2 separate regions of the Homo sapiens genome follow, and region 1 is linked to region 2. Evidence: fine-mapped expression QTL. A gene starts in region 2. The other region holds a variant in brackets. All regions are shown on one strand. Distances are from middle to middle. Region 1 has its middle 17 kb from the start of ESM1. Region 2 holds the start of GZMK (granzyme K).

Evidence for each region. PIP is the estimated chance that this variant, and not a neighbour inherited with it, causes the effect.
Region 1: its variant is the best candidate, but not a certain one, in a credible set for the expression of GZMK in whole blood (INTERVAL, PIP 0.77).

What each region holds. Positions count from the first base shown.
Region 1 is chr5:54,999,826-55,005,021 of GRCh38, forward strand. No RefSeq gene overlaps it. Among named protein-coding and RNA genes, the nearest start is that of ESM1, 17 kb to the left of the region's middle. The variant T/C (reference allele first, on the strand shown) is at 3,078.
Region 2 is chr5:55,021,425-55,026,620 of GRCh38, forward strand. GZMK (granzyme K) reads left to right here and starts at 2,832. Exons shown (of 5, transcript NM_002104.3): 1 at 2,832-2,962; 2 at 3,236-3,383. The coding sequence starts at 2,899. LOC102467081 (a long non-coding RNA gene) reads right to left here and starts at 2,745. Exons shown (of 3, transcript NR_104662.1): 1 at 2,505-2,745; 2 at 1,204-1,288; 3 at 1-98.

The sequences.
Region 1 (5,196 bases), 22 kb before region 2:
AAATAATGAAATGAAGGCAGAAATAAAGATGTTCTTTCAAACCAATGAGAACAAAGACACAACATATCAGAATCTCTGGGACACATTTAAATCAGTGTGTAGAGGGAAATTTATAGCACTAAATGCCCACAAGAGAAAGAAGGCAAGATCTAAAATCAACACCCTAACATTACAATTAAAAGAACTAGAGAAGCAAGAGCAAACACATTCAAAAGCTAACAGAAGGCAAGAAATAACTAAGATCAGAGCAGAACTGAAGGAGATAGAAACACAAAACATCCTTCAAAACATCAATGAATCCAGGAGGTGGTTTTTTGAAAAAATTAGCAAAATAGGCCACTAGCAAGACTAACAAAAAAGAAAAGAGAGAAGAATCAAATAGATGCAATAAAAAATGATAAAGGGGTTATCACCACCGATCCCACAGAAATACAAACTACCATCAGAGAATACTATAAACACATCTACACAAATAAACTAGAAAATCTAGAAGAAATGGATAAATTCCTGGACACATACACCCTCACAAGACTAAACCAAGAAGAAGTTGAATCCCTGAATAGACCAATAACAGGCTCTGAAATTGAGGCAATAATTAATAGCCTACCAACAAAAAAAAGTCCAGGACCAGATGGATTCACAGCCAAATTCTACCAGAGGTACAAGGAGGAGCTGGTACCATTCTTTCTGAAACTATTCCAATCAATAGAAAAAAAGGGAATCCTCCCTAACTCATTTTATGAGGCCAGCATCATCCTGATACCAAAGCCTGGCAGAGACACAACAAAAAAAGAGAATTTTAGACCAATATCCCTGATGAACATCGAAGCAAAAATCTTCAATAAAATACCGGCAAGACGACTCCAGCAGTACATCAAAAAGCTTATCCACCATAATCAAGTTGGCTTCATCCCTGGGATGCAAGTCTGGTTCAACATATGCAAGTCAATAATGTAATTCATCACATAAACAGAACCAAAGACAAAAACCACATGATTATCTCAATAGACACGGAAAAGGCATTTGACAAAATTCAACAGCCCTTCGTGCTAAAAACTCTCAATAAACTAGGTATTGATGGGACATATCTCAAAATAATAAGAGCTATTTATGACAAACCTACAGCCAATATCATACTGAATGGACAAAAACTGGAAGAATTCCCTTTGAAAACTGGCACAAGACAGGGATGCCCTCTCTCACAACTCCTATTCAATATAGTGTTAGAGGTTCTGGCCAGGGCAATCAGGTAGAAGAAAGAAATAAAGGGTATTCAATTAGGAAAAGAGGAAGTCAAATTGTCCCCGTTTGCGGATGACATGATTGTATATCTAGAAAACCCCATTGTCTCAGCCCAAAATCTCCTTAAGCTGATAGGCAACGTCAGCAAAGTCTCAGGATACAAAATCAATGTGCAAAAATCACAAGCATTCTTATACACCAATAACAGACAAACAGAGAGCCAAACCATGAGTGAACTCCCATTTACAATTGCTTCAAAGAGAATAAAATATCTAGGAATCCAACTTACAAGGGATGTGAAGGACCTCTTCAAGGAGAATTACAAACCACTGCTCAATGAAATAAAAGAGGACACAAACAAATGGAAGAACATTCCATGCTCATGGATAGGAAGAATCAATATTGTGACAATGGCCATACTGCCCAAGGTAATTTATAGATTCAATGCCATCCCCATCAAGCTACCAATGACTTTCTTCACAGAATTGGAAAAAGCTACTTTAAAATTCATATGGAATGAAAAAAGAGCCCGTATTGTCAAGACAATCCTAAGCAAAAAGAACAAAGCTGGAGGCATCATGATACCTGGCTTCGAACTATATTACAAGGCTACAGTAACCAAAATAGCATGGTACTGGTACCAAAACGGAGATATAGACTAATGGGACAGAACAGAGGCCTCAGAAATAACACTACACATCTACAACCATCTGATCTTTGCTGAACATGACAAAAACAAGAAATGGGGAAAGGATTCCCTGTTTAATAAACGGTGCTGGGAAAACTGTCTAGCCATATGTAGAAAGCTTAAACTGCATCCCTTCCTTATACCTTATACAAAAATTAACTCAAGATGGATTAAAGACTTAAATGTTACACCTACAGCCATAAAACCTGTAGAAGAAAACCTAGGCAATACCATTCAGGACATAGGCATGGGCAAGGACTTCATGACTAAAACACCAAAAGCAGTGGCAACAAAAGCCAAAATAGATCTAATTAATGGGATCTAATTAAACTAAAGAGCTTCTGCACTGCAAAAGAAACTACCATCAGAGTGAACAGGCAACCTACAGAATGAGAGAAAATCTTTGCAATCTACCTACTTGACAAAGGGCTAATAACCAGAATCTACAAAGAACTCAAATAAAGTTACAAGAAAAAATCAAACAACCCCATCAAAAAGTGGGCAAAGGATATGAACAGACACTTCTCAAAAGAAGACATTTATGCAGCCAACAGACACATGGAAAAATGCTCATCATCACTGATTAACAGAGAAATGCAAATCAAAACCACAATGAGATACCATCTCACACAAGTTAGAATGGCGATCATTAGAAAGTCAGGAAACAACAGGTGCTAGAGAGGATGTGAAGAAACAGGAACACTTTTACACTGTTGGTGGGACTGTAAGCTAGTTCAACCATTGCAGAAGACAGTGTGGCGATTCCCCAAGGATCTAGAACTAGAAATACCATTTGACCCAGCCATCCCATTACTGGGTATATACCCAAAGGATTATAAATCATGCTACTATAAATTCACATGCACACGTACGTTTATTGCAACACCATTCACAGTAGCAAAAACTTGGAACCAACCCAAATGTCATTAATGACAGACTGGATTAAGAAAATGTGGTACATATACACCATGGAATACTATGCAGCCATAAAAAAGGATGAGTTCATGTCCTTTGTAGGGACATGGATGAAGCTGGAAACCATCATTCTGAGCAAACTCTTGCAAGGACAGAAAACCAAACACTGCATGTTCTCACTCATAGGTGGGAATTGAACAATGAGAACACATGGACACAGGGCAGGGAACAA[T/C]ACACATCACACATCGGGACCTGTCATGGGATGTGGGGAAGGGGGAGGGATAGCATTAAGAGAAATACCTCATGTAAATAATGAGTTAATGGGTGCAGCACACCAACATGGCACATGTATACATATGTAACAAACTTGCACGTTGTGCACATGTACCCTAGAACTCAAAGTATAATTTAAAAAATAAATAAATAAAAGAATAATCCCTGTTGTAGATTTGTCTGAATTATCTCTCGTCTCTTACTTGCATTGCCCACATTCTGATAATCCTTCTATGTATGTTCCTTGTTGATCTTGTTTTATGTCCGGGACTTACTTGACTCTCTCTCTATAGTATAAATTTCAGCAGGGATTGAGCCTTCATTGCTAAATTGCTACGGAGTCTTGGCTTTGCTCTGATTTACTTGGCAAAATGCTGGCTGCCTGCTTCTTTTATTCCTTGTTTTCCCATCAGAAGAGTAATCTTTATTTAGTAAGTTGAAAATATAGTTCAGGGTGCCAATTGTTGCCAGTGATTGTTATTACTACTTTAAAATTTGAAAATGAAGGGATTTCCCCCAAAAAGTTATTTCTAAAATGGAAGATAGGTTTACCATCTGCTAGTTTTTGACCCAGAGATTTCCCATCAGTTTTCTGACCCTTTTCTGCAAGTGTATTGGTCATTTGGATGCACATAATCTGCCTCATCAGCAGTCTCCCTTCCCTGGATCTCTTCTGACACATTCACAAAACAACATCTGGGAATAAAAGCCTTAAGAATAAACAATGGAAGTGTTCTAGATGTCTGGGATGGAACGTGACTTGTCTGCTAGAAGAGTTTTCCTTCCTCCCTGAATTATGAGTTATTGAAAACTTCCTTGTCTTATAGAACACTTTGAGCACTTCGGTTTGGATTCCACAACAAGCATTCTTGGCTTTGATTTGGGTTGTTTTTGTTTTTGTTTTTTGCATAATATCAGCCAGTACTGTAACCTGCTGGCTTGGGTCCTTGGGTCCTATTGAGTGAGTCACGAGGACATTTTTCTGACTCTGACTCCAGAAGACTTTGTTCTTAAAGCAAGTTAGGAACATAGGGGAAGTGCCACTCTGGGACTAGACCTTCTTCCCTAACATCATGCTATGCTACTGCCCGACTTCCATTAGTCTTACTATTTATTACATTGGAAATGGCTTGTATACCTGTGTGCGCTCATGTGTGCATGTGTATATGTGCATGTGAATGCAATCTGTAGACTGGATGCTCCATCCTCTGCCTGGGGGCCTCACTCTTTAGGTTCTTTGCTTCTTCAGAGAGGTGTTTAAAACTGATGTTAGTGAAAATAGTACTTTCTGACTGAAATCCAAACTTTAAAATATTTCTCTAGTCATCTTCCGCATAACATACATACACATTGGGCAGAAAATGCATTTGCTTAGTCCTTCCAGTGTGACAGTTTTAAATATCCCCGGGCAACAACCACACAAAGGCTTCTGGCTCATCTGTGACCCAACAACATGCAAAAACAAAACATCATGCCTAGTGCCAGATTGTTACATACTCAAAGCAGGTGATGCCCATGTGGTGTGATTTAACAGGAACAAGGAATATTCTCAATCCAAACTATCTCCATCCCTGTCATCACTCTGGGCATCTCATCAGTGGAAATCCTTCCTCTGAATCTTCAATTTTTTTTAATATTTAAGAAACACTAAATAAAATGAGAATACACTGAAAAGTGACAACACTTTAAATTATTCTTGAGCAGTGAGATGTTGGTGGATATTTGCTGACAATTAAACCCTTGCAGAAGAGGACTGTTCAGAGAAACAGAAACACTGAGAGTGGAGATGGCAGGATTCATCACCTGCTTCCAAATTTGATCTTGAATCGATTTGACCAGTTCTGGTAATTCTGTGTTTTTTGGCAAATTTCAGAAAGCATGGAGGGAACTAAAAGACAGATATTGAAACTTCATTTTGTTTATTAAGAGAGAAATGGGCAGAAGTGGATTTTGAAACATGTTCTTTCCTGTTGACACATGTTCAAAGAATGTCTGGAGGAAATACTAAGTTAAAATACAGACTGATTCAACTATTGGCATCAAATCACTTACAGTGAAATATGGTTGCTATCTTGGAC
Region 2 (5,196 bases):
GACAGAGCAGGTGTCTGGGCTGTTGAAGAAAGGCAGTCCAAGGGATAGAACCACACGAGGCCTTTGGAGCAGTGGCACAGCTGTTCTATAAGGGTCTCCTGAAACACAGGAGAAGCAGAAACAAAACATCTCTAAGAGCAGCAAGAAAGACAGCTAAACACAGCAAAGAAGAGCCACAAGGCTATGACGTGTGAAGCCAGCCCTCCTCTGAGCACAGCCTTGCACTTGCTCAGTCCGGTACAGTTGCTGTAAAGCCATCCAAAGCAAACATGGCCCTCCCTGCAGCAGACTCAACAGAACAAAAACCAACACCCAGAAATAAATTAGATCGCCGAGCTCATCATGTTACACAGCCCACTGTTCTCAAATCCAGAATCGTGAATATAATAACAAATGATACTATTAACTGGCAAATCGGTCTAAAGCCAAAACCAAATAACTCATTACTATTAACCAACATGATTCTCAGAATTTTCTAGGTCAGCTACAAGAAAGAGTTATGAGACTCTTCCCAACTGAACTAAATCTCACCCATGTCTAATTACACGCAGTGTGTATGGCTAAATCCTTTTTCTCTTCTGCACAGCTAGCTTGTGTCTCAGAGCCCCTAAACCCCCAGGGACTTCTCAAAGGAGGCAGGCATGTAGCCAGGTTGAAAGGAACATAGAGCCGGGAGCCAGCACATAGGAGCTTAAGGGCCACCTGCTAGCTCGGTAATCTCAAGCAAGTCCCTGAATTTCAGTTTATTTATCCATAAAACAAGACTAATGACAACCACTTCCCTGGAAATACAGCTAAAAACGTTCAGCAATTTGTACAACGCTATGTGGACATTAATCCTTACTACTCAGAAATAAGCAGCTGAGAGATGTTTGTAACCATTCCCATTTCCCCCGCCACACACACACACACACACACACACAAAGCTTCGTCCTTTACAATTTATTTCTTCCTTAGAGTTTGGATCACTTCTACCTGTCACACACCATCTTCCTTACGATCCCAGCATCACTGGGATGTAGCAGGGAACTGACGCCATCCTGTCTGCCTTCCAATGTGGAACAATGGCACACAGTAGAGCATCCAAGGTACATCAACAGTGACAAAGATGACTTGAAAATTCACAGGGACATTTGAGTGGGAGTAATAAGTTTGGTTTATTAAGCTTGTGGCTTTTCTTAATCTGGCTCCTCCTTATCTCACCTTCTGCTCTGACAGGAAGTCACTGCTCTGCGTTGGTTTTGTTCATTCTGTTTAACATGTAGAAAGCTTTACTGTTGCCACACACCTGTACAAGGAAAGCAGGTTTTTTATAAAATTCTGTGTTCTGGGAGGGTACTCATTCACATACAACTTAACATACAGGGAGGTCAGGCAGGTGATTTGGTCTAGGTCATAAGCTGTGTTGCCTTGGGCAAATTACTTAGCCTCTTGGAACTTATTTCTTCCATTGTAACATAAGTTGTCCTGCTTTCCTCAAAGACATAGACATGAAACCATAAATGATCATATAAAAAGAATTTTGGAAATAAGGTATTTTACTTATATATTATTAAGTTATAATGAATAATACATAATTATAGTATTATTTTTTATTATTCCTACTCTTTGTGCTAGAAAACAATTTGAAAGGAGTCTCTTGCAATCTGCCGAGCATAATAGCTCTGGATTTTAATTCTCCTTTCTAAAATGAATGGAAGATAAAATGCATACCTCTTAAAAGAAAGATCTGTTGATTTAATGCAAATTTTGATCAGTGTTACTAGGAAGTGATTGGCATTCTGATGCGTGATCTGTTTGTATTCATTTTATATTTGCACTGCTGATCAGTGTCTGGCACAAACAGAATCTTGTAGAATCTTGAGTCTAATACCTTTTGTATTGAAGGCCTGGCAATGCATTGTCATCTGTTCCTGGGAAGAATTACAAAATGCAGTCCTTTATTTTTAAAAGACATTATTATTAAGTCCCTGGAAAAACACATGGCCATTTTCAATTAAAAATGAGTAAAAGAGAGACTCTGAATCAAAAATAGTTGCCAATGTTCACCTTTAACAACATTATGAAATCTCACAAAAATGTAACTAAAATTTAACCAAATTTGGGCAAACTTAGAGAAACGACATGAGTAGGGATGTTTGCTGCAAAACATATGGTTTTCTCTGGTTGGTGCTCAGGCTTTAGCTAAGCCACATTGTGAAGTAACCATAATCTGTGCAAGGTCCATGTCTCTCTTCATCATAAATCTATGTCCAAATGAAAAAGAGAGAAGAATGAAATATGATAGGCACCATTTTGTGCCAGGAAAAATAGTAAGTATTGCTTGAGAGCAATGGACATCTTTGAACTCTGTCTGCAACTTCATTACATTCTTATGGCATGGATATTTTTCATTTATAAATATTATATACACATATAGTATAAATTTTCTTTATAGCATAAGTACTCTGATACAGGTATTAGAGATGGTATCTCCAGATATGAGTTCTTTATGGCATACATACCTCTCCCAAAAAAGTGCTAAAAGCAATTAGCCGGATGTGGTGGTGGGCGCCTGTAGTCCCAGCTACTCGGGAGGCTGAGGCAGGAGAATGGCGTGAACCCAGGAGGCAGAGCTTGCAGTGAGCCGAGATCGCGCCACTGCACTCCAGCCTGGGCGACAGAGAGAGACTCCGTCTCAAAACAAAACAAAACAAAAAAGTGCTAAAAGCACAGACCTGAAAGTCCCCAAACTGATACATAACGTTTACACCTAGGTGTGAAAAAAAATCTTACCCCTAGAGCACCTGTGGTGAGAAAGTCAAAACTTACAAGAACAAAACTCAGTCTTCAGAATCTTCTTCCTTCATCACAGGATCAACACATTTCATCTGGGCTTCTTAAATCTAAATCTTTAAAATGACTAAGTTTTCTTCCTTTTCTCTGTTTTTCCTAATAGTTGGGGCTTATATGACTCATGTGTGTAAGTATCTCCTATATCTACATGTAAACATTAAATGAATTTCTACTGACTATATTGTTATATTATAGATGAAAATTATTTTCACAATCATTCCTATCTTTCTGAACTGTAATGTATTATACAAATTTTTCATCAGTAAAATTATTGTAGCTTTTAGGTAGGGTTATTGTTGTTTTTTAAGCTTTGAAAATAATATAGTGACTGTCATTGGAAGAATTACATGAAACAGTAGTTTAGATCTTTTGTGTGAAACCTTTTGGTCTACTTTTGTAGGTTTCAATATGGAAATTATTGGAGGGAAAGAAGTGTCACCTCATTCCAGGCCATTTATGGCCTCCATCCAGTATGGCGGACATCACGTTTGTGGAGGTGTTCTGATTGATCCACAGTGGGTGCTGACAGCAGCCCACTGCCAATATCGGTGAGTCCTCCACACTTTTCCAGACATGTGTTTTTTCTGAAAGTTATTATAGGTACAAGAGAAGCTTACCTCTCCTGAATGAGAATTTGATCTACTGTTAGCTTCTGTGGTTACTGACCAACTGGTGGCGTTTATTTACCTTCTTCCACATCCACGCTTTCTGTCTTGGGTTTTCCTTTTCAGAGAGAACTGAGCTGCTTTTCCCAGGCAAGACATTAGACAAATTCAAGTCCTCTGTATAATGCAGGGAACACAGCAACAGTAATACTTGAAGCAGCAGTACTCTTGACCTTGTTAGATCACACTGCTCAAAAGGAAATCAGACAACCTGAGCTTGCTCTGTGCTCTGAGCTTCCCCATTTTACAAAGGGGTAATAATCATATCATACCTGCTTTGTGGGTTTTGAGAATTAAATAGTATCTGTTTAAGTATTTTAGCATGCTTGGCACATTTAGTAAGCACAAAAAAATTGCAGCTATTATCATTAGTATTATACGCATGAGAAGCCTACTTTGCCACTCCTAACAGTAGCTACCTAACAGTAGCTACTCACCACTTACAACTTTCCTAGGTGGAAAAAAACAAGTTATTGATGACTTCTAGAAAGAGAAAGATAATGAGAGAGTTATTTTCTAGGATACTTAGAATGAAAGCTTTTCTGAAGACAGAGTAAAACCTTCCAAAGTCCATTTCAGCCTAGGATTCTCTTACTTCAGCTAATAAAGCACAAAACCCCTCTTGGGATGCTGCAACCATCACAAAAGGAAATGCCAGTAGAAAACTAATTTGGTATTTGTTGTTTTGTTTGTTTGCTTGGGTTTTTGGTTTTGTTTTTTGTTTGTATATATGTTTCCTTATGTTTCTTACCTAATAAGCTGAAATGGAGCCTTCTCCTTTTCTTTCACTTAAAGATCTCTCTTAGCTGTAATGGTTTGCTCTCCAGGCATTGTCTATATCTAAACAGAACAATTGAATTGATTTGCTTTTCTATGCTTTGGGGGTTTTGTCTGATTACCCCATTTAAATGGAACTGTTTGATCACAAATTGGAAGTTTTGAAGCCTGCAAACTGGGAGATCTTCTGCTATCTCTAAATAGCAAGCCACTGATTTCCAATTTAATATGGTTACTTCATTTACACAGGGTTCTTGCCCTCATAGAAATCACACTCTCATCCCCATCACTTCTCTCTTCTCCAGGGCATTTGCCCCCTCGAGATCAGAGAGACAGAGTGGGGAACTGTCAGCGAATGTTCATTTGATGCAAAATATGCACATCTTCAAATATGCTCATAATACACATTCAAATGGTCTATAACCTCCCCAGACACAGAGCTTGACTTCTAAATGTTCAACAAACTTTGGATGGAAAGAAAGAAATACACTGAAAGATCTTTCTTTCTTTCTTTCTTTCTTTGGCTAGGCCTGAAACATGGTGTATGAAAAAGTGCTTCACTAGCCATAAAGTGTTATAGGAAATTAAATAATATCACTAAGTTGAATTTTAAATTTTGTCAAGTGGATTTAACTCACGAGAAGCGGATTCCCAAATTGGGGAAAGAGATTATTGACAAAAGACTGGAGAGAGGTCTTGGAGTTTTTTGTGTTTTGTTTTTTTTTTCTTAAAACAAACTATTGCTAAATATCATTTTAAATGGCTGGGGTATAAAGAACTGCAAAATATGTAGATCAAATTTCCTCTACAGGACACTTGGGTGTAAAAAGTAGGCAGATCGGTGGTTGGAAAAATATTAAGCTTTATGAAATTCAAAATATTTACAAAATAGCTCAATGGTGGCTTCCCACAAATGTAC